Homo sapiens: one gene and its partners. The protein of the gene in region 1 purifies or fractionates together with the protein of each later gene. This does not show direct contact. Each region holds a gene or a part of one and is shown in the gene's direction. Other genes may lie near its edges.

Region 1 (6,605 bases):
ACAGAAAAAGTCTGCTGACCTCTGCTTTGGATCATGACTGAAAATTATACATTATGTGAAAATTTACTATTACAGCAATGAATAACTGATTTTTGCTGAAGGTGACAAAAATTAATTTTGTGGAATACAAAATAATTCCTGAAATATGTATGTCTTTACATTATTACTCATCCATATATTGCTAGCCCATAAGAACACTCAGACATGCAGAGTCATAATTAAACTCAGTCATCTTTGATATTTTGCTTTCAATAATATTAAAACCATCACTTTACACATATCGATTTTGCTTTTATAAAGGTATAGTTGTCAAAATAGAAGATAGAACATATTTAACAATTTTTTTTGCTTTGACTTATAATTTTTAATTATCAGGCATATGCTCTGTTTGTATTCTTGTTCTGGGCCTCTTAAATGTTAGAGTGGGAAGCCTGGATGAGGCCTGGTAAGCATGTCAACACTTAGATGTCAGGAGCCATTTTTTGCTCTGTTGGGGCCTTATGTTCTGAGCAAAGCCTCTGAGAAGTTCTACCAATGCTTAATGAGTTCAGCAAAGCCTACCTGTCTGCAGCTACCACAGGGCAGTGAGAAAAAAACCAGCAGAGCACCTGCTATGAACTAAATTGCATCCTCTGAAAATTCTTATGCTGAAACCCAAACACCCAATTTGACTATATTTGGAGATAGAGTCTTTAGGAGGTAATTAAAATTAAATGAAATCATAAGAGTGGAATCTTAATCTTATAGGACTATGTGTTTATAATAAGTGAAATCAATCTTTCTCTCTCTCTCTCTCCTTTCGCTTTTTCATGTGAGAAACACAGTGAAAAGGTAGCCATCTGCAAGATAGAAAGAGGGTGCTCACCAGAGACCAAATCCTGCTAGAACCTTGGTCTTAGACTTTCCTGCCTCCAGAACTGTGAGAAAATAAATGTATGCTGTTTAAGCCACCAGTCTACAGTATTTTGATATGGTAATCTAAATACAATAAGACAGATTTTGGTATTGAGAAGTGGGGTGCTGCTGTAAAAAATACCTAAAAATGTGGAAGTGGCTTTAGAACTGGGTAATGAGTAAAGGCTAGAGTCTTGCAGCACATCCTAGAAATATGGACATTTAGGGCAATCTTGGTAAGGTCTCACAGAGAAATAAAGAACAAGATACTGAAAACTGGAGGAAAGGTGATTTCTGTTATATGGTGGCAAAGAACTTGGCTGAACTGTGTCCTAGTGTTTTGCAGAAGTTAGAACATGAAAGTGAAGAAATTGGATATTTAACTAAGGAGATTTCTAAGCAAAGTGTTGAGGGATTGGCTTGGTTTCTCCTGACTAATTATAGTAAAATGCAAGAAGAGAGAGATGAATTAAAGAAGGAATTGTTAAGCAAAAAGGAACCAGAACTTAACAACTTGGAATATTCTCAGCCTATCCATATTGCAAAAAATGAAACTTGTCCTGAAGAGAACACTAACCCTACAGCTGGACAACCATTTGATGAAGAGATTGTGGGTGGGACTCATGAGTATAATCAGCCATCTCAGCGGAAGCCAGGAATAGAAGTGGGATTATATGAGCAAAAACACTAGTTTGAACTAAAGGAGACAGAGAAAGCTACACAGAATGAAGGAAGACTTTTGAAGTTCTTGGATTCTCAGGAGCAGACCATTTACCTATTTGGCTGCTAATTGCACTGTTATTCAAGGAAAAATAAGAATAACCATGAAGGCATTTATAGATAATCAGGGCTGACACTTCTACCACAGGCCCAGGGGGCAAGGCTGTTTCTACCTCAGTTTCAAAGGGTGATACCACCTCTCCAGTTTCAGTGGGCCAGGGTGACCCCGCCCTGTGCCTCAGGGGCAAGGCAGCCTTTATAGACAATCCTTTGGGCTGGACCCTCTCTGATAACTGAAGGGGCAGGGCCCTAGCAGAGCCATGAAAGTGACACTGCCACCCAAGTGGTGGGTAGAGTGTTTAACCAAAGAGGATTATTATTGAGCCTTAAGATCTCATGGAATTCGCCTTGCTAGGTTTTGGACTTGCTTGGGACTCACTACCCTTTCTTCCTTCTGATTTCTTTCTTTTGGAATGGGAATGTCTATCCTATGCCTCTGGCACCATTGTATTTTAGAAGCACATAACTAGTCTGGTTTCATAGGTTCACAGCTAGAGAGGAATTTTGTCTCTGGATGAATCTTACCTTAGTCTCACCAATATATAATTTACATGATATTTAGATGAGACTTTGGACTTCAGACTTTAAGAGTTGATGCTGGAAAGAGTGACGACTTTGGGGACTGTTGGAATGGAATGAATGCATTTTGCATGTGAGAAAACATAAATTTGGGGCGAACCAGAGGGGTTAAAACTCTCTCCTTAATTAAACTTTAGACAGGCTCTTCTAAGCCCTCTTTTTGACCTCATCCTTGCTAAGTCTAGTTTTAGCAGGAGTTTAGCTTAAGTCACTTTAGTGAGAATCCCCTGCTCTTGATATCCAATCACCTTCAATATCTGATCACACTCTTCTTCCCCACCCTTGATATCTGATCACCCCAGCCTACCTTTAGCAAGAATCTTGTTAAGTTGGTTTAACAAGAATTCATCTACCCTTGATGTATCTTCTTAGTAATTTTTCATCCACTGACCACTTTGCTCTGCTCCTTGGCTATAAATCCTCTTGCATTTACTGCATTTAGAATTGAGCCCAGACCAGGTGCAGTGGCTCACAGCCGGGCGTGGTGGCGGGAGCCTGTAATCCCAGCTATTCAGGAGGCTGAGGCAGGAGAATCACTTGAACCCAGGAGGCGGAGATTGCGGAGGTTGCAGTGAGCCTAGATCGTGCCACTGCACTCTAACCTGGGTGACAGAGTGAGACTCTGCCTTAAAAAAGAATTGAGCCCAGTTCTATCCTGAGGTCTTTTTGCCCCATTGCCATAGTTCCTGAATAATATCTGTTTTACCTCTTTTATTACTGTCCAGCTCTGGTTCTGTTAGGCAAATGCTATAGACTGAATTTTGTCCCCCTACCCAATAAAATTCATATGTTGAACTCCTAACCCCCAATTTCACTACTCTTTCACTACTGTCCAGCTCTGGTTCTGTTTAGCAAATGCTATAGACTGAATTTTGTCCCCCTACCCACTAAAACTCATATGTTGATGCCCTAACCCCCAATTTGACTGTATCTGGAGATAGGGTCTTTAGGAGGTAATTAAGGTTAAATGAGGTCATAAGGGTGGGTCCCAAATAGGATAGGATGTGTCCTTGTCAAAAGAGATCTCTCCAAGCCCTGCTGCCATGTGAGGACACAGTGAGAAGGCAGACATCTGAAAGCCAGGAAGTGAGCCCTCACCAGAAACCAACCCTGCTGGAAACTTGATCTTGGACTTCTAGCCTCCAGAACTGTGAGAAAATAAATGTCTATTGTTTCAGCCACCCAGTCTATGGTGTTTTGTTACGGCAGCCCGAGGTGAGTGAGACAGCACCTCTGTGTATCTGAGGCTGAGGTGTATGCTTGTGTGCAATCACATGCATTATTTCCAGAGTCGAGGTGCTAGAGGAAGTTGGTGTGGACTAGAGAAGCAGGCCTGAAGACACAGAGCCTGTGTGGCATGGTTATTAGGACTTTTGGTGAGTAAGGCAGAGTTGAGACCAACGGTGGGAGAAAGAGACTGCCACAGGCCTCTGCTTCTGCTGGGCTTTGTCTTGTTCTCTCTTTAGATTTCTTTCTCATTGGCAATGTGTGTAGCTTCCAAAGTGAGGTGTAGGCTGTGGACTTAGTCTATTGATTGTACCACAGCCCAACAAATAAATGATACTGTATATTGTTAACTCCTTTTTCCCATCTCTATCTACTCAGGAAGGCTTAGTGTAGCTGTTTGGGTAGAGAGACAAAAACTGGATTCTTCCACAATAAGCTTCTTGACCAGCAGGTGAAGAAATAATCCTTGCAAGAGCCCAGATCCAGCTTCTTGTGAGACAATGGCTGAGAAGAAATGATAGACGGGCCTGCAGAGGCCTACACGTCTGATTTTCATCAGTCCCTTTAGGATGTGCTATGGTTTAAATGTGTCCTCCAAAAGTTCATGTGTTGGAAACTTAATTACCATTGTAACAGTATTAAGAGGTAGGGCCAGAGGAGGAAAGGCTGAAGGCGTGAAAAGGCACGCAGGCGCACTGCACGGACCGCCCCCCTGCTGCTGCGCACCTCACGTGGCGCATGTTACGCCAGGTACCACACGCCACGTACTGCACACCACGTACCACACGCCACGTACCACACACCACGTACCACACGCCACACACATTATGCCACGCACGTTACGCCACGCACGTTACGCCACGCACGTTACGCCACGCACGTTACGCCACGCACGTTACGCCACGCACGTTACGCCACGCACGTTACGCCACGCACCTCACGGCAGCCCTACACTCGGCCTGGAAGAATTGTTTTTCTTCTCTGGAAAGGTGAACATTTATAGCATTTATTTCCCAAATCTGTTAACATGGCAAAATATGTCAGTCTCACTGAAGCTAACGAAGAACTCAAGGTCTTAATGGACGAGAACCAGACCAGCCGCCCCGTGGCCGTTCACACCTCCACCGTGAACCCGCTCGGGAAGCAGCTCTTGCCGAAAACCTTTGGACAGTCCAGTGTCAACATTGACCAGCAAGTGGTAATTGGTATGCCTCAGAGACCAGCAGCATCAAACATCCCTGTGGTAGGAAGCCCAAACCCACCCAGCACTCACTTTGCCTCTCAGAACCAGCATTCCTACTCCTCACCTCCTTGGGCCGGGCAGCACAACAGGAAAGGAGAGAAGAATGGCATGGGCCTGTGCCGTCTTTCCATGAAGGTCTGGGAGACGGTGCAGAGGAAAGGGACCACTTCCTGCCAGGAAGTGGTGGGCGAGCTGGTCGCCAAGTTCAGAGCTGCCAGCAACCACGCCTCACCAAACGAGTCAGCTTATGACGTGAAAAACATAAAACGGCGCACCTACGATGCCTTAAACGTGCTGATGGCCATGAATATCATCTCCAGGGAGAAAAAGAAGATCAAGTGGATTGGTCTGACCACCAACTCGGCTCAGAACTGTCAGAACTTACGGGTGGAAAGACAGAAGAGACTTGAAAGAATAAAGCAGAAACAGTCTGAACTTCAACAACTTATTCTACAGCAAATTGCTTTCAAGAACCTGGTGCTGAGAAACCAGTATGTGGAGGAGCAGGTCAGCCAGCGGCCGCTGCCCAACTCAGTCATCCACGTGCCCTTCATCATCATCAGCAGTAGCAAGAAGACCGTCATCAACTGCAGCATCTCCGACGACAAATCAGAATATCTGTTTAAGTTTAACAGCTCCTTTGAAATCCACGATGACACAGAAGTGCTGATGTGGATGGGCATGACTTTTGGGCTAGAGTCCGGGAGCTGCTCTGCCGAAGACCTTAAAATGGCCAGAAATTTGGTCCCAAAGGCTCTGGAGCCGTACGTGACAGAAATGGCTCAGGGAACTTTTGGAGGTGTGTTCACGACGGCAGGTTCCAGGTCTAATGGCACGTGGCTTTCTGCCAGTGACCTGACCAACATTGCGATTGGGATGCTGGCCACAAGCTCCGGTGGATCTCAGTACAGTGGCTCCAGGGTGGAGACCCCAGCAGTCGAGGAGGAAGAGGAGGAGGACAACAACGATGACGACCTCAGTGAGAATGACGAGGATGACTGACGTCCTCTCGCCTTAAGATTCAGCTTCAGGAAAACATTTAGGGAAAAGAAACTTTTTTTTTTTTTTTAATGTGAGGTTTTCTGTTTCTTTTTTGCCTACTCCCAAGAAGATATTGGTAAGCTATAGAATTTAGATATGCACCTCTGATAAGCAAGGATTGTTTCCCGTATGATTAAGACGTGCTGTTGATGTGTGTTTTGATACCAGTGTGCTGACACAGAATCTTTATTTACTTTTTAGGATTTTGTGTTTTCATTTTCTATTTTTCTTTAAATGCAGAGTTCATTGTTGCCCCTTAACAGTTTTTCCTGAGTTTACTGAAGAAATTGTACTTCATCCACATCCATGAAAATAAAATGCTCTCCTTTTGTGCACAGTGAGTACCGAATGCCGTTTATTTGCCTTGGATTTGGATGGCACCCCCACTGATGCATAGCAAGACTCTTGAGTTTTCCATTTGTTCAGTTTTGCAGTGTCCAGAGCCCCAAGCAAACGGCAGAATTCTATTTTCAGAACAATAAACACCATCAATCTTAAAAAAAAAGAGGTAGGGCCTTTAAGAGGTGATTAGGCCATAAGGGCTGTGCCCTCATCAATGGATTAATGCTGTTATAATAGGAATAGACTCTTGATAGAAGGATAATTTCAACCCTGTTCCTCTGTCTTGAATGCTTGCTTGCCATTCTGCCATGTTAGGACACAGCAGGAAGGTCTTCACTAGGTGCCAAGCATATGCTGGCACCATGGCTTTGGACTTCTCAGGCTCCAGAACCATAAGCCAAATAAATCTATTTTTCTTTATAAATTACCCAGTCTGTTATAGGAGCAGAAAACGAACTAAGACAGGATGGCTGAAGGCTCCTAGCCGGCAATCAATGCA
Region 2 (7,028 bases), on another chromosome or scaffold:
TAATACAGCTTTGCAAAGAGCTCAAATGAAGGTTTGCAGTCTGTCTAATCAAAGGATGGGGCGTAGCCTGCTAAAATCAAAAGATTTGTTAAAACAAAGGTACTTATTTGCAAAAGCTGGCTATCCTCTAAGAAGGTCTCAGTCTTTACCAACCACCTTATTGAGCCCAGTAAGGGTTGTGTCCTCTGTCAATGTTCGATTATCTCCAGGAAAAGAGACCAGATGCAGCCCACCTTCCTTCACCTATAAGTACACACCTGAAGAGGAGCAGGAATTGGAAAAGCGGGTGATGGAACATGATGGTCAGTCTTTAGTTAAATCGACCATTTTCATCTCTCCATCATCTGTGAAGAAAGAAGAAGCCCCCCAGAGTGAGGCGCCGCGGGTGGAGGAATGCCATCATGGAAGGACTCCTACCTGTTCACGGCTTGCTCCACCACCAATGTCTCAGTCTACCTGTTCCCTTCATTCCATCCACTCTGAGTGGCAAGAAAGGCCCCTGTGTGAGCACACAAGAACTCTGAGCACTCACAGTGTTCCCAACATATCAGGGGCTACTTGTAGTGCCTTCGCTTCCCCTTTCGGGTGTCCTTACTCACATAGACATGCCACCTACCCTTACCGAGTGTGCTCTGTGAATCCTCCTTCAGCCATAGAAATGCAGTTGCGAAGAGTATTACATGATATTAGAAACTCACTGCAGAATCTTTCACAGGTATGAGAAAAAGTATGTTATCATTAGCTTTTTTCTTTTACTGCTCTGAGCACTTTTTAATTCACAGAGAAGCTAAGGCACATCAAGTATGAACTACCTCAGCTTTATTTTCTGACATGTCTAAACTTAATCTGCATCTGCCTTCGTTTTCTATCTTCCCTCCTGTTTCAAGGGAGAAGCTGTAACTAACCCTGATCAAAGTCGATTTCTCTGCTCACAAGTCTGTCTCCTTTCCAAGAGGAGAGATTTTTCTCGTTAAGTATCCTCCCATTTTTAGTCTATCATCCACTGTCTTTGTTTTAGTCTAGAATCTTTTGTCATTTCTATTATTAAAAAATCTTCCCTCTTAAAGTTCTTTCTCTCTTTCTCTCTGCTATTTGAACATGTTGACTACCTTTTCCTTTTCCAAGTTTTCTCCCTGTTGGCTTCTGTGGCACCACGTTCTCCTGGTTCTGCTCGTAGCTCTCTGACTAAGCTTTCCCCTTCACCTACTGACCCTCGATGCTGTGCACAGAGTTAGTCTACTTCCACTGGACTCAAAGACTGGAACTACTCCAGACCAGAAAATAACAAATCAGGTAAAGTGTGAATTTGATTTAAAATGCTCTGTATGTCTTGTCACTTTTAAAGTCATTCTCAGATTTGTTAGTAGACTGGAAATAATTTTCCCAAAAAAATTTTGAAAATAAGTACGTTGTCTTCAGTTTTGCCTTTTACATTTTCTTGAACATTCTCTCTGAATGAATCATGTTTAGACAATTGAGGGATTGAAGAAAATGACAATGTAATATAGTCATGAGAGCATTCAACAAAGAGTCAGGAGGCCTAGAATGAATGTAATAGACCTCTTATCATGACATAGTAGACAGGGAGCCACTTGGAAAGTAAAAATCAAAGGTGTAACTTCTCAAGTTATAATAAGATATACCTCCTCTTAACTGTAAGTTTTATCCTCATGACAATTGTCCCCTAACAGTTTTCTGTTTAAACAGAATGTGGGTGTTTCTTATTCCTCCTTACAAAATATAGTTCTGTCTGTGATGGAACTTGCAGCTGTGATTATGTCAAGCTGGGGATTTCCAGGACCCTGTCCACCAGTACCGTGGTGCATCTTTCTAGGCCACCTAGTTCTTCTGCTCCAGCTGTGGTCTCTTTCTCCTGGATATCCCAGCAATAACTCAGCTAATACATCTCCCCATGCCTACCCCACCCTACACTAGTGGACAGGTGCTTTCTATGATGTGGTCTCTGACTATCTCTCCAGCCTCATTCCTTAGCTGTAGGATTGTGCACAGGTCTCTAAACAGTTGTGTGTTCTTAGGTATCTGCACATGGCTGATTTTGTGTTTTGTTTTTTTAAAATAAAAAGATGAAGTTTCTGTTTCTCGCCCACGTGGAGTGCTGGAGACAGTGGTGTAATCATGGCTCCCTGCAGTCTTGAACTCCTGGGCTCAAGTGATCCTCCTGCCTTGGCCTCCCAAAGTACTGGGACTATAAGCCACTTTTTTTTAACCGAGATCACCCAGTCTTTGCCTTTCTTTGCATAATCAAGCCCTATTTACTGTTAAGGCTCAGTTCAAGTAGTGTTACCACTTTTGGGAAAGTTCACGTAATCTGAATTTTTCTGTGTTCATCATAGCACTCCTTCCACAGTATTAGAATTTTTTTAAAATTTCCTTTATTTTTCTTTACACTGTGAGAACACCTGAAGGCTGGGAATACCTTTTATGTTTTTATCTCACTGCCTAAAATAGTGGCATATAGGAAATGCTAAGATGTCTGAGAAAGACGACAATGATTGCTTGCTCTCCAGCAAAGTTAATAATCACTATAATCTCATGATGATATTTGCAATGGCTTCTACATTTTTGCGTTTTGATTTTGTTTTTTTTTAGTTTCGCAAGAGGGAAGTCCTGAAAGAAATAGATGTGAACTATGTTCCTTCGCCTCCTCCTCCCACGTAGATTGACTTATACCTGGAACAGCTAGCAGTACTAGGTGTCATTGGGAACTGATTTCTTTTTTCCTGCTTACAATATGAAGGTTTTTTGGATCCTTTTGTCTTAAAGAGAAAAATATATAGGCCCCAAATTCTGCCTTTTAACCCCTTAAGTGATTTGGAAGTATTCACTTTAACATTGGTTTTAATCCTACTTTTACTTTTTTGAAGTACCCTATGATGAGAGGACCTGATCCTGCTGCTGCTCCATATAGTACTCAGAAATCATCTGTTCTACCTCTTTATGAAGTAAGTTCTTTCTTACATCTTTGTGTTCCAAAATAATTTGTAGAATTTAGAAGTGTAATTTTGTTATATTGCATTCTAGAATACTTTTCAGGAGCTCCAGGTAATGAGGCGGAGCCTGAATTTGTTTAGAACACAAATGATGGATTTAGAATTGGCAATGCTGCGTCAGCAAACCATGGTTTATCATCATATGACTGAGGAGGAGAGGTAAAAGTTCATTTTGTCTTAGCACACCTCAAAAAGCTTTTCATTCAAAGTCTTCTCAACTTATATTTTTTAAAATTAGGTTTTGATTCTACTGCTGTGTACCTTGTATCTGTTTTGTGAACCAGTGTAGATAAGATTAGTCATAGATAGTGTTTTACTAAGTAAACTTGTATGCCTTCAATATCCTAAGGGTAGTGGTAACCTGCTTTCCCGTGTTTGAGATATTTGTGAGAGGATAGGGGAAGAAAGACTAATGTCCTTGTGGATACACCTATTGTAGTTGATATTGTACTAATTTCTAGAACCTGAGATTTCCATGCCTTCTGTTAGCATATAGTAGTTGTTGAAAGATTTGTGATTAGGAATCTCCAAACTGCATTTTTCCAATTTTGTGCCCTTCACCATACCAATAGGTTTGAAGTTGATCAGCTCCAGGGTTTGAGAAATTCAGTCCGAATGGAACTTCAGGACCTGGAACTGCAGCTGGAGGAGCGCCTGCTGGGCCTGGAGGAGCAGCTTCGTGCTGTGCGCATGCCTTCACCCTTCCGCTCCTCCGCACTCATGGTACGCTACCTGGAGGGTGGTCGGAGTTTTCACCAAAGGTTTATTTATAATGTTCCAATAATTTAGGACGTGTGCCTTCATTTCAAGTCATTTATTTTAATGGTATTAAAAGCATGCATACTGTTTAAGGAGCTTTCCCACAAATCAGTTGAATGTACAATTTGTAATAATTGTCATAAATAGTATATTTAGAAATATGTTGAAAATTTTTAATGATAAATTTTAATAACAGGAAAGAATAAGGGCTTATACGAAAGTTGAGGGTTTTTAAAGGAAAAATGCTAGTGAATTAACATATGACTAATGTAAATTTTAATTGTTGCATGTAACTGCAGAGAACACAGATGCATATTTTGCTGTTTTTTTTTCTTTCATGCCTTTAAATAAAAAAGTGTTCCTTTTAAACTTTTTCTTTATTTTGGATTCTTTTCCATTTGTTTTTAAAGGAATCAAATGATACCTGTATATTTTCATACATATATATACATACACATACATATATGTATTTTCCTAAATATATAGATATATATCCAAGAGAATAAAAAGAAACATGTTTTTGTACCACTTTTCATACTTCTAATGTTTCTTTCCATAACATTTGAACTTCAACAGTTGTATTATTTTTGCAAATATCTTTGAAGTTGTAGAATATGTTGCTTTGAAATGCTGAAATAGTGAATTATTCTTTGTTACCTTAACAATGTATTTGATTTTGTTAAAAAGAAATGGATGAATATACACACATACAATTATGTGTGTATATACTATAAATGAAGTAGAATAAACAATGGTGTATAAACACATATATGTATAGCATAGACTAAGGATGTTCTGTATTGCTAATGAATGTACTTTTCAACATGGTTTTGATTTATCATTCTGAGAAGTGTATGTTGGTGACGGGAGAACTAGAACATCCTTTTTGCATATTGTATCAGTTTTAACTCACAATAATGCATTTTATGGGATCTGTGACACTTGAGAGTAACCTTTGTGACATAAAGGGATGCTTCCAGGCACTAATTAGCCAATTAATTTTATTATAAAAGTCTTGTGATTTGAAAAAATATATATGTACATTATAATTATATATGCATGTATGTATATATACACACACATATACATATATATATTGTTCTTACCTTTTCAGGGAATGTGTGGCAGTAGAAGCGCTGATAACTTGTCATGCCCTTCTCCATTGAATGTAATGGAACCAGTAAGCTTCTTTCCTCTTAAATCACTGGGGAAGGGAATGATACAACATTTCAGACACATAGTTTCCCTAGTTTAGATGAAATATATGTTTATTTTAAATACATAATTTGATAAATTATTGTTGATTGGAAGTGACTTTCACCTTTGAAAGTCCATTGCTGTCTGAAGCCACTAGAAAGCCACCTGAATTGCAATAGTGATTTATCTTTCTGACTAAAGGAGGTAATGCACCATAAAAACATGTACAGTGGCTCATGCCTGTAATCCCAGCACTTTATTTAAATGGTTGAGGTGGAAGGATTGCTTCAAGCCAGGAGTTTGAGACCAGCCTAGTCAACAAAATGAGACCCTTTCTCTACAGAAAATTTAAAAATCAGCCAGGCATGGTGATATGTGCCTGTAGTCCCAGTTACTCAGGAGGCTGAGGCGGGAGGATTGCTTGAGGCCAGGAGCTCAAGGCTACAGTGAGCTATGATTGTGCCACTGCACTCCAGCCTGGGTGACAGAGCAAGACCCTGTCTTTAAAAAATAATAAGCCAGGTGTGGTGGCTCATGCCTGTAATCCCAGCATTTTGGGAGGCTGAGGCAAGTGGATCACCTGAGGTCAGGAGTTGAAGACCAGCCTGACCAACATGGTGAAACCGCATCTCTACTAAAAATACAAAAATTAGCTGGGCATGGTGGCAGGCATCTGTAATCCCAGCTACTTGGGAGGCTGAGGCAGGAGACTTGCTTGAACCCGGGAGGCGGAGGTTGCAGTGAGCCGAGATCAAGCCATTGCACTCCAGCCTGGGTGACAGAGTGAGACTCCATCTCAAAAAAAAAAAGAAAATTGATTTTTAATTTACATTTCAGGAGACATGTGCTTTCACAGTTTGATCCTGGTTCTTTAGGTAGTTAGAGCTGTAACATGACCACGTTTTTAACAGAAATCTGTCTTTATTGTGTTAGACAGATTGGTTCATTTGGGGGCAAAAGCACTATGAGTAACTATTTTTCACTAGTTACTCTTCCTTACAAGTGATTTGGACACTTTGGTGGTAACAAGTAAAATTTCATCCTACTATGTATTCTGTTTACCTGTTTTGTTGCTTCATCTCAATAGGAATTTAAATTTTACTTACCATTTTTGCAAATAAAATTGAGTAGTTATTAAATTAATGGAATAGATTTATGTCTTTACAAATTACATGATTTTAGGCAATAATGACAACCAGGACTTTAACCTTTTTAGCTACCAATCTTAATTCCAAGAGAGAAGAATAACATTTTTTTATGATCTCCAGGTCACTGAACTGATGCAGGAGCAGTCATACCTGAAGTCTGAATTGGGCCTGGGACTTGGAGAAATGGGATTTGAAATTCCTCCTGGAGAAAGCTCAGAATCTGTTTTTTCCCAAGCAACATCAGAATCATCTTCTGTATGTTCTGGTCCCTCTCATGCTAACAGAAGAACTGGAGTACCTTCTACTGCCTCAGTGGGCAAATCCAAAACCCCATTAGTGGCAAGGAAGAAAGTGTTCCGAGCATCGGTGGCTCTAACGCCAACAGCTCCTTCTAGAACAGGCTCTGTGCAGACACCTCCAGATTTGGAAAGTTCTGAGGAAGTTGATGCAGCTGAAGGAGCCCCAGAAGTTGTAGGACCTAAATCTGAAGTGGAAGAAGGGCATGGAAAACTCCCATCAATGCCAGCTGCTGAGGAAATGCATAAAAATGTGGAGCAAGATGAGTTGCAGCAAGTCATACGGGAGGTGGGTAAAATCTGTGTTTCATTCATTTATTTGGAGGTATATGTTAGAGGAGATTTTGTCTGAATATTAATTATTTACAGAATGTTCTTTTGATTCACTGTATTCAATAATTTTCACAGAGCTTTTAAATTAGCTTTCCTGTTGATCAAGTTTGTGTCAATTAAGATATATTTGTAATGGCATTTCTGCAAATTTCATACTCTAATGTGAAATAATTACAATTCTCTGTGTTCAGTATGGTGAAAAAGATATGTGAAGGACTCAAAATAAACATGACGTACTCTTTGGACCTCTTGTTTCCACATCTACAAAATGAGGATTTACAGTT
Region 3 (7,028 bases), on another chromosome or scaffold:
AGCCTCCCAAGGAGCTGGGACTACAGGCGCCTGCCATCTCTCCCGGCTAATTTTTTGTATTTTTAGTAGAGACGGGGTTTCACCATATTAGCCAGGATGGTCTCCATCTCCTGACCTTGTGATCTGCCCGCCTTGGCCTCCCTAAGAGCCGGGATTACAGGCGTGAGCTACGGAGCCCGGCCTTGAGTTACTTCTTACTTTTAGCTATTATGAATAATGTTGCTATGAATATGGGTTTTCAATTCTTTTGGGTATTTACCCAGAATTGTAATTGCTGGATCATATGATAATTCTATTTTAAAGTTTTTGAGGAACCGACAAACTATTTTCCACAGTGGCTGGACCATTTTACATTCCTACCAACAGTGCATAAGGGTTCCAATTTCTCCACATCCTCACCAACGTTTATTTTCTGTTTCTTTTTTTTTTTTCAAGTAGCCATCCATTGGGTGTGAGGTGCTATCTCATTGTAGTTTTGATTTGTATTTCCCTAATGATTAATGATGTTGAGCATCTTTTCATGTGTTTACTGGCCATTTTGTGTATCTTTGGAGAAATGTCTGTTTAAGTCCTTTGCCCATTTTTAAATTGGTTTGCTTTTTTGTTGTTGAGTTTTAGGAATTTTCTATATATTTTGGATATTTTCAGATACATAAACGGCAAAAATTTTTTCCCCATTACTGTGGTTTGCCTTTTTACTCATTGATACCGTGTGGTCTTTTCCTTTCTTTTTCTTTTTGGAACCAGTGCATGGCCTCTTTGTTGATTCTGTGTTTGGCCCCAGTGCAGCCTGTTCTGTGCTATGTGTCTGCAGTGCTGAAACCAGGCCTACCCAGCACCATACAGAAGTCCAGGCTGTAGATACCAATGCATGGGTCACATTTGATACCCAAATCTGTGTGTTCCTGGATCTCCAAACCAAAGTTTCCAGTATCTGAGAAGTTGTTCTTTCTTGATTCACACTCCTGCATCTTTAGACCTTTCTTCAGGGTTTCTTCTGCTTTGGCCCTTTGTGCAGTGGGTGGCAATCTTCACTTCTCCTGATGCCAAAGGATCTGACAATGTATTTGACTTTGGAGAACACAGGGGTCTGGCCTATGAGCTGCTCCAACACCTTGGCTGCTGGGGTCAGTCATCTCCAGTCTCCTCCATACAGATGTTGAGACAGAAAATCGTTCTGTCACCCAGGCTGGAGTGCAGTGGCACAGTCTCGGCTCACTGTAACCTCTGCCTGTCAGGTTCAAGCAATTCTTATGCTTCAGCCTCCCAAGTATCTGGGATTACAGGTGTGCACCACCATGCCTGGCTAATTTTTTGTATTTTTAGTAGAGATGGGGTTTCGCCTTGTTGGCCAGGCTGGTCTTGAACTACTGGCCTCAAGTGATCCACCCATTTTGGCCTCCCAAAGTGCTGGGATTATGAGTGTGAGCCCTCATCTGGCCAGAGTTCTCTTTTTTTTACCTTGATCTTGCACTATGATGGAGAAAAGGAAGATAAAGTCTTTTTTTTTCCCTTGGGTTTGTTTGTTTGTTTGTTTGTTTGTTTTTTGAGACGGAATTTTGCTCTCGTTGCCTAGGCTGGAGTGCATTGGTACGATCTTGGCTTACTGCAACCTCCGCCTCCTGGGTTCAAGCCATTTTCCTGCCTCAGCCTCTAGAGTAGCTGGGATTACAGGCATGCGCCACCACGCCTGGCTAATTTTGTATTTTTAGTAGAGATGGGGTTTCACCATGTTGGTCAGGCTGGTCTTGATCTCCTGATCTCAGGTGATCCGTCCACCCTGGCCTCCCAAAGTACTGGGATTACAGGCGTGAGCCCGTGCCTGGGCTATTTTTTTTTTCTCCCCTTTAAATATAGTATCTTGCTTTATTGCCCAGACTTGTTGTGAACTCCTGGACTCAAATAGTCCTCCTACCTCAGCCTTCCAGGTAGCTGGGATCACAGGGATGCTGTCTTTTGATACACAAACATTTTAAATTTTTATGAAGTCCAGTTTGTCTTTTTGTTTTTGTTCCCTGTATCTTTGGTGTTATATCCAAGAAATCATTGCCAAATCCATTGTTGTGAAGCTTTTGCCTTATGTTTTCTTCTAAGAGTTTTATAGCTTTAGGTCTTACATACATTTTTGATCCATTTTGAGTTAATATTTGTATATTGTGTTAGATAAGGGTCCAACCTCATTCTTTTGCATATGGATATTTAGTTTCCCAGCACCATTTGGTGAAAAGCTTGTCTTTTTCTGATTGAATGGTCTTGGCAACCTTATTAAAAATCATTTGCTCATATGTAAGAGGGCTTATTTCTAAGTGCTGTTATGTTCCATTGGTCTATAAGTCTGTCTTTATGTCAGTACCACATGGTTTTGATTATTGCAGCTTTGTAGTAAGTTTTGAAATCAGGAAGTGTGAGTCCTCCAGCTTTGTTCTTTTTCAAGATTGTTTTGGCTATCTGGACTCCCTTGGGATTCCATATGAATTTGAGGATGAATTTTTCTATTTTTGTAAAACACGTCATTGGGATTTTAATAGGGATTACATTGAATCTATAGATCACTTTGGGTAGTATTGGCATCTTAACAATATTAAGTCTTTCAGTTCATGAACAAGGGATGTGTTTCCATTTATTTATGCCCCTTAATTTCTGCCAGCAGTTTTTTTTTGTTTGTTTTTGTTTTGAGATGGAGTTTCGCTCTTGTTGTCCAGGCTGGAGTGCAGTGGCACAATCTTAGCTCATTGCAACCTCCACCTCCCGAGTTCAAGTGATTCTCCTGCCTCAGCCTCCTGAGTAGCTGGGATTACAGGTATGTGGCACCACGACCAGCTAATTTTTGTATTTTTACTAGAGACAAAGTTTCACCATGTTGGTCAGGCTGGTCACGAACTCTTGACCTCAGGTGATCCACCCACCTTGGCCTCCCAAAGTGCTGGGATTATAGGCGTGAGCCACTGCGCCTGGCCTCAGCAGTGTTTTATAGTTTTCATTTTATAAGTCTTTCACCTCCTTGGTTAAATTAATTACTAATATTTTATTCTTTTTGGTGCTATTTTAAATTGAGTTGTTTTTGTAATTTCCTTTTTAGATTGTTCATTCTTAGTGTATAAAAATGTAACTGGAGGCTGGACGCAGTGGCTCTCACCTGTTATCCCAGCACTTTGGGAGGCAAGGTGGGCCTCCCAACTCCTGATCACGAGATCAGGAGTTCAAGGCCAGCCTGGCCAACATAGTGAAACCCTGTCTCTACTAAAAATACAAAAATTAGCCATGCATCGTGGCGCGTGCCTGTAGTCCCAGCTACTTAGGAGGCTGAGGCAGGAGAATCGCTTGAACCTGGAAGGTGGAGGTTGTGGTGAGCCAAGATCGTGCCACTGTACTCCAGCCTGGGCAACAGAGTGAGACTCTGTCTCAAAAAAAAAAAAAAAGAAAAAAGAAACGTCGCTGGATTTTGCTTGTTGACTTTCTATCCAGCTACTTTGCTGAATTCACTTATTAGTTCTAACAGTTTTTTTTTGTGTGTGTGTAATTTTAGAGTTTTCTTTTCTTTTTTTTTTTTTGAGATGGAGTCTCGCTTTGTTGCCAGGCTGGAGTGCAGTGGCGCGATCTCGGCTCACTGCAACCTCTACCTCCCAGGTTCAAGCAATTCTCCTGCCTCAGCCTCCCGAGTAGCTGGGACTACAGGCACACGCTACGACGCCCAGCTAATTTTTGTATTTTTAGTAGAGACGGGGTTTCACCATGTTGGCCAGGATGGTCTCGATCTCTTGACCTCGTGATCCACCTGCCTCAGCCTCCCAAAGTTCTGGGATTACAGCCGTGAGCCACTGTGCCTGGCTTTTTTTTTTTTTTAATTAACTATTGAACTTCTGTTTATTATTATTATTATTATTTATTTATTTATTATTTTTTGAGATGAAATCTCGGTCTGTTGCCCAGGCGGGAGTGCAGTGGTGTGATCTCGGCTCACTGCAACCTCCGCCTCCCGGGTTCAAGCAATTCTGTGCCTCAGCCTCCGGAGTAGCTGGGATTATAGGCGCTCGCCACCATGCCCGGCCAATTTTTGTATTTTTAGTAGAGATAGGGTTTCATCATGTTGGTCAGGCTGGTCTTGAACTCCTGACCTCGTGATCCGCCCGCTTCGGCCTCCCAAAGTGTTGGGATTACAGGCGTGAGCCACTGCACTTGGCCTTATTTTTATTATTTTTTTCATCAACTTTTAAGTTCTGGGGTACATGTGCATGATGTGCAGGTTTATCACATAGGTAAACCTGTGCCATCACAGTTTGCTGCACAGATCAACCCATCACCTAGCTATTAAGCCCAGCATCCACTAGCTATTCTTCTTGATGCTCTAGCTCCTTTTGCCCCACTGAATTTTAGGGTTTTCTTTCTTTTCTATTTTTTTTTCTTTTGAGACAGACTCTCGCTCTGTCACCAGGCTGGAGTGCAGTGGCACAATCTTGGCTCATTGCAACCTCTGCCTCCTGGGTTCAAGCGATTCTCCTGCCTCAGCCTCCCGAGTAGCTGGGACTACAGGCATGCGCCCATGCCTAGCTAAGTTTTTGTAGTTTTAGTAGAGACAGGGTTTCACTATGTTGGCAAGGCTGGTCTCAAACTCCTGACCTCAAGTCCCCTTGGGGTTCCTGAAGTACTGGGATTATAGGTGTGAGCCACCACGCCCGGCCAGATTTTCTATATAAAAGATCATATAATCTGCAGACAGATAATTTTACTTTTTCCTTTTCTTTCTTTTTTTCTTTTTTTGAGATGGAGTCTCGCTCTGTCGCCCAGGCTGGAGCGCGGTGGCGCCATCTCTGCTTACTGTTACCTCTGCCTCCTGGGTTCAAGCAGTTCTCTGCCTCAGCCTCCCAAGTAGCTGGGATTACATGCACATGCCACCACGCCCAGCTAATTTTTGTATTTTTAGTAGAGATGGGAGTTCATCATCTTGGCTAGGCTGGTCTTGAACTCCTGACCTCGTGATCCATCCGCCTTGGCCTCCCAAAGTGCTGGGATTACAGGCATGAGCCACCGCTCTTGGCCCTCAACCTTTTCCTTTTCAATTTGGATGCCTTTTATTTTTATTTTTCTTCCTTTTTTTTTTGAGATGGAGTCTCGCTCTGTTGCCCAGGCTGGAATGCAGTGGTGCAATCTCTGCTCACTGCAACCTACGCCTCCTGGGTTCAAACGATTCTCCTGCCTCAGCCTTCCGAGTAGCTTGTACTACAGGCATGTGCCACCATAAACAGCTAATTTTTTTTTTTTCTCGTATTTTTAGTAGAGACGGGGTTTCGCCGTTTTAGCCAGGCTGGTCTCGATCTCCTGACCTCGCGATCCGCCTGCCTCAGCCTTCCAAAGTGCTGGGATTACAGGCGTGAGCCACCATGCCCGGCCCTTGTTTTTCTTTCTTGCCTAATTACTCTAGCTAGAACTTACAGTATTATGTCGAATGGAAGTGGCAAAAGTGGGCATTGGGCATCCTTGTCTTGCTCCTGTTCTTTTATTTGTTAGTTTGTTTGAGATCCTCCTGCCTCAGTTTCCTGAGTAGCTGGGACTATAGACACACTACTACACCCAGCTAATTAAAAAAATAATTTTTTTTTTTTTTTTAGAGATGGGGTCTCGCTATGTTTCCCATGCTGATCCTGAACTCCTGGCTTCGGGTGATCCTCTACTCTTACCCTCCCATAGTGCTGTGATTACAGGCATGAACCACTGTGCTGGCCCTGTTCTTGTTTTTAGAGGAACATTCTTCAGTCTTTGACCATCAATTATGTTTGCTGTGGGTTTTTCATATGTTGCTTTTATTTTGTTGAGGTAGTTTCACTCTATTCCTAGTTTGTTGAGCATTTTTATGACTAATGGGTTTTGAATTTTGTCACATGCTTTTCCTGCATCGATTGACATGATTCTGTGGTTTCCTTCATTCTGTTAATGTGGTATATTACATTGATCAATTTTTACATGTTGGACCATCCCTGTATTCCAGGAATAAATCCCACTTGGTCATGGTGTATAATCCTTGTGCTGCTCAGTTCAATGTGTTGGTATTTTGTTGAGGATTTTTTTTTATCAGTGTTCATAAGGGATAGTGATCTGTAGTTTTCTTGTAGTTGCCTTTGTCTGGCTTTGGTATCAGGGTAATGCTTGCCTCACAAAATGAGTTGGGAAGTGTTCTCTCCTTTGCCAGATTTTTTCTGGGAAAAGATTGAGAAGAACTGGTATTAGATCTTCTTGAAATGTTTTATAGAATTCACCTATGAAACTATCAGATCTAGGGCTTTTCTTTGTCAGGAGATTTTTGGTTAGTGAGTCCATCTCTTTACTGGTTATAGCTCCATTCAGAATTTCCATTTCTTTGTGATTTAGTCTTTGTAAGTATTGTGTTTCTAGGAATTTGTTCAGCTGGGTTATCCGATTTGTTGGCATACAATTGTTGAAAATACTCTTTCAACAATAAGAGAGAAGACACAAATAACTAGTTCTTTTGTTTCCAGTTCCTTAAGTTGTAAAGTTAGGGTGTTGATATGAGATCTTTCTTGCTTTTTAATGTAAGCATTCATAGCTATAAATTTCCCCCTTAGCACTGCTTTTGCTGTGTCCCGTAAGTTTTGGTATGTTGTATTTTCATTTTCATTAATCTCTAAAATTTTCTAATTTTCCTTGTGATGTCTTTGAACCCTGGTTACTTAAACACACACACACACACACGTGTGTGTGTGTGTGTGTGTGTGTGTGTGTGGTTTTTTGTTTGTTTTGAGACTGAGTTTCGCTCTTGTTGCCCAGGCTGGGGTGCAATGGCGCGATCTCGGCTCACTGCAACCTCTGCCTCCCGGTTCAAGCGATTCTCCTGTCTCAGCCTCCAGAGTAGCTGGGATTACAGGCGCCTGCCACCACGCCTGGCTAATTTCACACACACATTTAAAAAATACATCTACCTGCTTTTACTTCAGAATCTTTGCAATTTCTGTTCTCTCTGCCTGAAAATTTTTTCCACCAAAATATCTACAGGGCCTGGCTCCCTTGCTTTTTAG
Region 4 (7,014 bases), on another chromosome or scaffold:
CAGAGGCTGGATTCGGGGAACTGTCTCTACCAGGACAATAACCAGGTTGTGTCTCAGGCTGAGGTCAAAGTTGGGACTCAGTGTGGGACCAAAGTCTGGGCCTGAGTGTCAGCATGAAGCATGTATCAGGTGAGATGCTCAGAGTCTGATCACAGGAGGGAGGCCATCTGCAGCCAAGGTGATGGGTCAACGTGGCATTCCTACACCCAGGAGAAAGCATCAGGTAATGAGTACCCAGGCACTGGAGAACTCAAGAACAAACATGGAGACTGCCCAGGGGAGAGATATGAGGGACAGGGGACAGCAGGAGATAGTCACTCATTTCTTTTTTTTCTTTTCTTTTCTTTTCTTTTTTTTTTTTTTTTGACAGGGAGTCTCGTCTCACTCTGTCACCCAGGCTGGAGTGCAGTGGCGCGATCTCGGCTCACTGCAACCTCTGCCTTCTGGGTTCAAGCGATTCTTTTGCCTCAGCCTCCTGAGTAGCTGAGATTACAGGCATGTGCCACAACACCTGGCTAATTTTTTTTGTATTTTAGTAGAGATGGCAGGTAGTCACTAATTCGTAAGGCCCTCCCAACTTTAAGGATGGTGATGGGTAGGCCAAGTAGCCCCCTGTTCCTCAGTATTCTAGTATCCCAGTATTCTAGTTCTGGTTTCCTGTTAAAGCCCCCGCTCCTGCTCCCACACACACACTAGTACTACCACATACAACTCATAGGTACAACTGGGGGAGAGAAGTGGCCCAAGGGCCAGTTCTGTCACTGCAGGGAGGTGGCAGCTGTGAGGGTAGTCTTCCTTCCCCCCAGGATTCTCTGTTTCTACTGGCAACAGGGCCTGGCAGCCTCCCACACCCAGATCTTAGCAACCATGGGAACCCCTGGCAACCATTACCATGGTGACAAGACAGGGAACTGAAAACAGGCTGGGGGCACTTCCTCTGCAGCCTTCGGGATGTGAGCAGGATAGGGGCTCCCTTCCCTATACAGTCTGGGAGGGAACATGTGCCTCTGTCTAAAACACCTCCTCACTGGCACCCACCCCCACCCCTGCCCACGGGTTCCGGTTCCCTCAGGGTGAGGAAATGAGGGACACCTAGGGTTATGACGTCTCCAAGGGGAGGGAGGGTGAGTGGGGGCGTTTGGGACTGGCATGATCGCAGATGCGTGCATACGCTGGCAGACATGGTGTCAATGTGTCAGTGCCTATATACCTTATCCACTCTTTGTCATGTAGACACATGCCCGCACAGTCATTTACTCACACATGTACACTGACCCAAAATCATATACCTACAACATATAACAGAATCAGGCACACCACCACACAAAAATAACTGCACAGATCCACTCACAAATCACATTACCAGTACCACACTACAAATAACTCCCAGACTCACAGATTTATAGATGCACTCGCACTCCCAGCATCTGTGAACATGTAGAGTAATGGTTAACTTGGTTGAGTTAACCAAGTTAACCATTGGTTGGGTATAAACTACATGCCCAGCTCAGAACTAAGTGCACTACCTGTGTTACCTTAATTAACCCTCTCAACAACCCCCTGAGGCACCAATCCCCATTTACAAAGGAGATGAGGCATGAGTGTGGCGTGTAAGCTCACAAGGTGCATAGACTCCAGACCACACTGTCACAGTCCATGCCACACTGAGCACTACACACACGTGACACCCAGGACAATGGGACTGAGGGCGGGAACCGAGGACTAGGCAAACAGTGGAGTCTGTGCCACCAACACCTGAAGGCACAGTTCTGCACCCTCAAAGGTCCGAGCCTACACTTTAGCATTAGCAGGGGCCAGGTAAAGGCTGGTGACTAAACTCTCTGCCTCCGTGTTGGCACAGGCAAGGCTGGGGGAGGCAAAAGAGACAGAACTGGAATAGGAAGAAGTAGAGCCACCCACAGCCTGGGCCCCACAGGTGTGGAGGTGGAAGAGTGAGAGCCCCCAGATCTGAGGAGCCAGCAGCGGTGCAGGGCCCCTCACCCCACCTTACCCATCTCTGTGTCACACAGAGATGTCCATCCCTCCTCCCTCCCCTCCCCCTTCCTCACTCCTCCTCACCCCATCTCTGTGCCTCATCCTTTCATTACTCACCCCTTCTTTCCTCATCCCTCACCCTGCCTTCCTGCCCCTCCCCAGCCCTTCTTTCCTTATCCCCCACCCTGCCTTCCCTCCCCTCCCCAGCCCTCCTTTCCTCTGCCCTCCTTACTCCCACCCTATGGCTCATCTGCCCCATGCCCCTCCCCTCCTCATCCCCCTCACCCCATCTCACCATCCTCTCACCACCCCCTCTCCCTACCTCCCCCCCTCAACCCCATTTCCTCAAATTCCTCATGCTCATTTCCCCACATTCATCACCCATCTCTGCTCCCCTCCTGGCCCCCAACCCCACTTCCTTTCCATCCTCCTTTCACCCCAAGTCTCTTTCTTCCTTCACACCTCATGCCCCTTTACCCTTGGGAGCCCCATAGTGACTCCTGGCATGAAGGTAGGTAGTGAAGAATCTACAGACATGACTCCAGGACCCTGGCACCCCCCCCCCGCCTTGCTCTGCTCTTGGCCCAGGTACTCAAGCTGCAGTTTCTAGCAAGACCTCATGGGTGTCCAAACTCTGTCTCTGGAAAATAGGAAAGAAAGAAGTAAAGGGGAGCTTCCGGCCTGACCCTTCTATCATCATCAACCCCCCAGCACTCCCCTCCCCCACTTCACCCCCAAATTACTCCCTCCCCACCCCCGCTCCCTCGAGCACAGATGGGCCTGGGAGACAGTGACGTGGGCGCCAGGCACCGTGTCTGCTGGAGTGGCGGCTTCCGCTGGCGACCGCCTCCGCAGCCCCGCCTGCTCCCTGCATCGGGGACACTGGGGCTGAGATCTAATGACTTAATGGGGGGTGGGGGAGACTAGAGATTCTGAGGGTGTTAAGGAAGGGGATCTTGGGGAGTGAGATGAAAGATGAAAGGGGAGAGCTAGGATAGGAGATCGGGGTGTAAAGAAAGAACCAAGAATAAGACAAAAGGGATCACTGCGGGAAGGAAGACAGGAGATCATCTAGGGCCAAGAAGGAAAGGGCTAAAACACAGGCACTCCAGGGGGAAGCAGGATGAGAGACTGATTAGAAGAGGGACTGAAATGGAGACCGCGGGGTCGCTGAAGAGGGGCGCGAGGATGAGGGGCTGTACAGAGGGTGGGCGGGGGAGATTCCTGGAGGCACCGGCCTGGGCAGAGCCATCCGTTTCCCTCGGGGGAGAGGTCCGGGGGGCTCTGAAACCCGGCATCCGTGGGGTCTGTTAGAGATTCCGTTAGGTCACATCAGGCCACCGCGGGGTCAGGATAAGGTAAAGCTAAATGAGGTCAGCTTGAGGTGGTTACACCGTTGGCTGAAAGGCGAGTAAGAAGTGCTGACCTTTTGGCCCCGGTCCAGGGACTACACCTCCCAGAGTGCACTGTTCTCTCCCTCTTGCCCCCCAATGAAGAAAGGAAAGAATGCACGGCCGCACGGCCAACTGGTGGGTACAGTTTTCCTTTAAGGCTGCCTTTGACGTCGCAAGGGTTCCAGAAGGTTCTCCTGGGATTCGAGCAGTGGCCAGTACGTCCCACCTTCTCAACCCGGAGATTGGACTAATATAGTTTGCCCCCGGGCTCGGGTCTGAGTCTCAGGCACGAACCAATAAAATCAAAGGGCGAGCGAGGTTGCCGCCCTCTGTCTTTTTCACCAATGGCACGACAAGATGGCAAAGAGGCGTGGTTGAGTGATCCCAGAGGGCGCCAATCAGATCCACACCAATCACTGCCTGGAATGTGTGCGCGTGTGGCCGGGTGACAGGGGCGGAGGATGGGCGGCTATCACCAAGCCGCTTGTTGAAAACTGCCCAATCACAGTGGAGGCTGAGCTGAGTGACAGGAAGACGGTTCAATGGGCGGCGCGGAGGCGGAGCCGTGGGGGCGGGCTCCCGGTCCCGCTATCGGCGGCCGGCGGGCAGGCGACTCCTGTCCCGGGTGGAGGCGGCGGAGCCGGAGCCGGGGGAGGGGGCAGCGGCTGTCTCACGGACCACGGCGGCGCCCGCAGCTCCTCACCGGTGAGGGCGCCAAGCCAGGACTCGGGGGTCCCGGGAGCGGGGCGTCGTGAAGCCAGGGCTCCTGGTGTTGGGGGGTTGGGACACTGAGGGCCCGTAGGCTCTGCTGCCTTGGGGATGCGGGGCCCCGGGGTCTGCAGGGTGCTCGGAGTCCTAGACCAGGGCTTGGCTGTCACAGGGGGCAGCCAGCGTCTGAGTCGGGGAGGGGAGGGGAGGGGAGGGTCGAGTCGGACCGGACCAGATTGGGTTCTGTGGGGCGGAGGCATCTGTGAGCAGACCAGCCAGCCAGCGCGGGTGACATCACCGACCACCCTCCCCCGCCCGAGCCCCCTCCCCTCCTCTCCTCGCCGCGCCTTTTGTCCCGGCCGAGCTCCGCTCTGCCCCGCCCATCTGCGAGGGAGGAGACTCCCGTCAGTGACTTCATTGAGTAGGTTCTTGGGGATTGGGGTCGGGTCCTCCCCAGTGAGAGGCGACAGGAGCTCACTGCCTCTCGGGCCCTCACAATCACACCTGTCACAGGTATACACGCTGCCACTCACAAACACACGCTTGCACTCCCAGCCTCACTGACACGCTGCCATACAGCCGCTCACAGCCAGCCAGACACTGCTGCACCTGAGAGCAGGTGGCCGCGGGTCTTCTCCCTTCACTCTCCACATTTGGGGATCAGGTCCGGCACCTGCTGCGCCAGACAGGCCTTGCTGGGCACGCGCCTCTGAGAGTCCAAGGAGGTGGCTTCCAGAGCTGCAGCACTTCAGGCCGGCTCCGGTGGAGCGATCAGAGGTGAGGGGCTTGGCTGGGCATGTTTAAGCGCACAGTGCTCTCCTGCCCACCCCCAGCAGCACCCCCACTGCAGGCCCGAGGAGCTTTCCGGAGCTTCCCACACTCCTGGGGAGAAGACTTCTTAGCCAGCTTGATGTTTAAAATTCAGCTGGAGCCCTTAAAACTTCGAGCGTGGACGCTGAATGGGTTTGTAAAGTTTCGGTAAGTCCCTCCGGAGAAGGGCACTCACACCCATACCCAGTCAAACCCTCCACGCGGCCATCCCCTCCATTGCCTTCCTGCTTCCTCCAACTCATCCTCATCCCCTCTGTGACATACAGGAACCCCCCTCCGGCCTCACCCACATATTTGAATGAATTGCACCCCTTATCATTCCTTTTCTCAAACCCTTCAGGTATCCATTTTCCACAGACATTTCCTCCATTATTTCAACTCTCCACATTCCTCCCTTTCAACCCATCATTAACCCATTTTCCACCTCAGCCATTTCCATCTGTCACTCATCCCCCTCCATCAGTACCTCATTTTCTGTATCAGCCATCTCCCCTCCCTGTACCTCAACAGTCCCCCTCGCCATTTTCTCCCCATTTTTCCTTCCTGCCTCTACCTTAACATCCTCCTCATTCTTCTCCATCAAAGGCAGTGCCATGCCATGGGGCTCCTTTGTCATTCCAACACGTGGCCTGTGGGTAGGGGGGAAGGGAAGGAGGGAGGAAAGCAGAAAGAGAAAAAGGAGGCAGATCCTGAAAGAGCTTGCCCTGTGTCTGCGGAGGCAAGAGATGTATGGGCCTAGAGCAGCTAGCAGGTGGGTACCAGGGAGGAAGCTGGCCGGGTGTGGAGGTAATGCAGGGACACCAAAAGGAGGTGGGTGGTTGGTGAGCCGTTCCACTGGCCCTCTGCCTGGAAGCTGCTCTCGTTCTCTAGGGGCACCCTCTTGGTGTGCTAGGGTTCTTTCCCAGTCCCAGGGGAAAGAAGGTGTGGGTTGAGGCAGAAATGGCAGACCACCCCCCCCCGCTCCCTCTCAGACGGCTTTTGCTGCCATTTCCGAAAACGGTTGCCCCCCCCCCCAACGAGGTGCTCTTTCTTCTCTGCCTCTCCCAACCCCACCCCCCACCCCATCTCCCCCACAGACGTGACATGCTGGTGGGGGGCAATGGGGGAGTACCCGCCTTTGTGGAGCCTTTTCTTCGTCAGAGAAAGGTGACTCCCAGAACCATGAGTCAACCCAGCCACCTGCAGCAGGGCCTGTGGGGGCAGCAGTGAGGGCCATTGTCCCTGCCCACCTAGGGCCTTGGGCGCCTCCCCCTTACCCGGTTACAGGCCTCACTCCTGGAAGGACACCCTGTACACCTCCCTGCTGTGAAGCAGTCAGAGGCAGAAAGGCAGGTCTCAGCTGTGGCTGCCAGCCTAGGACATTGCTAGAAAGACTCTGGTTCTCCTGGCTTTGGCAGGGGTTGGCCAAGTCTCAGAAGGGCTGAGAATGGCTTCTGGCCATCCCCCAGAGAGCTCTAGCTACAGGAAAGTCCCCCTTCCCCTGATATCCACCACAGACACACCGATAGAGGGAGACTGGAATGGAAGAATTCGGGTTGTACGTTTCTCTTATAACAAATGCTCCTGCACCCACCTTAAAAGGGACTCAGAGGAATATGGGTCTGATGATGGGCCGGATCCTAAACCACAGGGTGGACTGGGGGCGTAGGGTGAGGCTAGGAGAGGTATTAAGGAAATGGTGGTTGGTTAGTGCCCAATTGTCTCCTAACAGCTGGGGTTGAAAAAGTCCTGTCCCCAGGATGCTTTTGTTCACTCACACTGGTGCTTAGGCGGCACAGCCCTCACAGTTTTGTGTGTAGACGCTGGCAAATGAGTAAAGGGAACTGTTGCCCTGGTTGGGGGAAGGATAGTGTCGCCCCCCCTGCTAATGAGGGAGTTGGAAACAGCAGTTTCCAAAGGCTGTGAGTCACCCTGTGATCTGAGTCACACGTGAGGCTTAGCATCGTCAGAGGGGTGGGGGCGGGGAGGCCTGGGGTCTCCGATGGCAGACAGGACTCCAGACACCCATTCCCTGACTCAGTCTGGCTGGCCAGGACAGCTGGCGGAAGACCCAGGCCTGTTCCCGGTCCTGGGCCACTGCCCCAGC

What was found.
Region 2: the proteins of TFDP3 (region 1) and ITPRID2 purify together in Homo sapiens (affinity purification with mass spectrometry; 3 studies listed by BioGRID and IntAct, with this or other methods). This does not show direct contact.
Region 3: the proteins of TFDP3 (region 1) and KIF11 purify together in Homo sapiens (affinity purification with mass spectrometry; 3 studies listed by BioGRID and IntAct, with this or other methods). This does not show direct contact.
Region 4: the proteins of TFDP3 (region 1) and DNAJB5 purify together in Homo sapiens (affinity purification with mass spectrometry; 3 studies listed by BioGRID and IntAct, with this or other methods). This does not show direct contact.

The regions. Positions count from the first base shown.
Region 1 is NC_000023.11:133,216,162-133,222,766, reverse strand, and holds TFDP3 (transcription factor Dp family member 3), read left to right. Parts: upstream 1-4,412; 5' UTR 4,413-4,507; coding exon 4,508-5,725; 3' UTR 5,726-6,105; downstream 6,106-6,605.
Region 2 is NC_000002.12:181,915,713-181,922,740, forward strand, and holds part of ITPRID2 (protein ITPRID2), read left to right. Parts: coding exon 1-715; exon of another isoform or gene 716-887; coding exon of another isoform or gene 888-974; exon of another isoform or gene 975-1,125; coding exon of another isoform or gene 1,126-1,185; exon of another isoform or gene 1,186-1,293; intron 1,294-2,610; exon of another isoform or gene 2,611-2,758; intron 2,759-2,885; coding exon 2,886-2,963; intron 2,964-3,042; coding exon 3,043-3,170; intron 3,171-3,583; coding exon 3,584-3,734; intron 3,735-4,884; coding exon 4,885-4,950; intron 4,951-6,235; coding exon 6,236-6,700; intron 6,701-7,028.
Region 3 is NC_000010.11:92,596,121-92,603,148, forward strand, and holds part of KIF11 (kinesin-like protein KIF11), read left to right. Parts: intron 1-738; exon of another isoform or gene 739-1,169; intron 1,170-7,028. UniProt on the Homo sapiens protein: Motor protein required for establishing a bipolar spindle and thus contributing to chromosome congression during mitosis. Required in non-mitotic cells for transport of secretory proteins from the Golgi complex to the cell surface.
Region 4 is NC_000009.12:34,985,738-34,992,751, forward strand, and holds the start of DNAJB5 (dnaJ homolog subfamily B member 5), read left to right. Parts: upstream 1-4,007; 5' UTR 4,008-4,094; intron 4,095-4,552; exon of another isoform or gene 4,553-4,761; 5' UTR 4,762-4,893; coding exon 4,894-5,075; intron 5,076-7,014.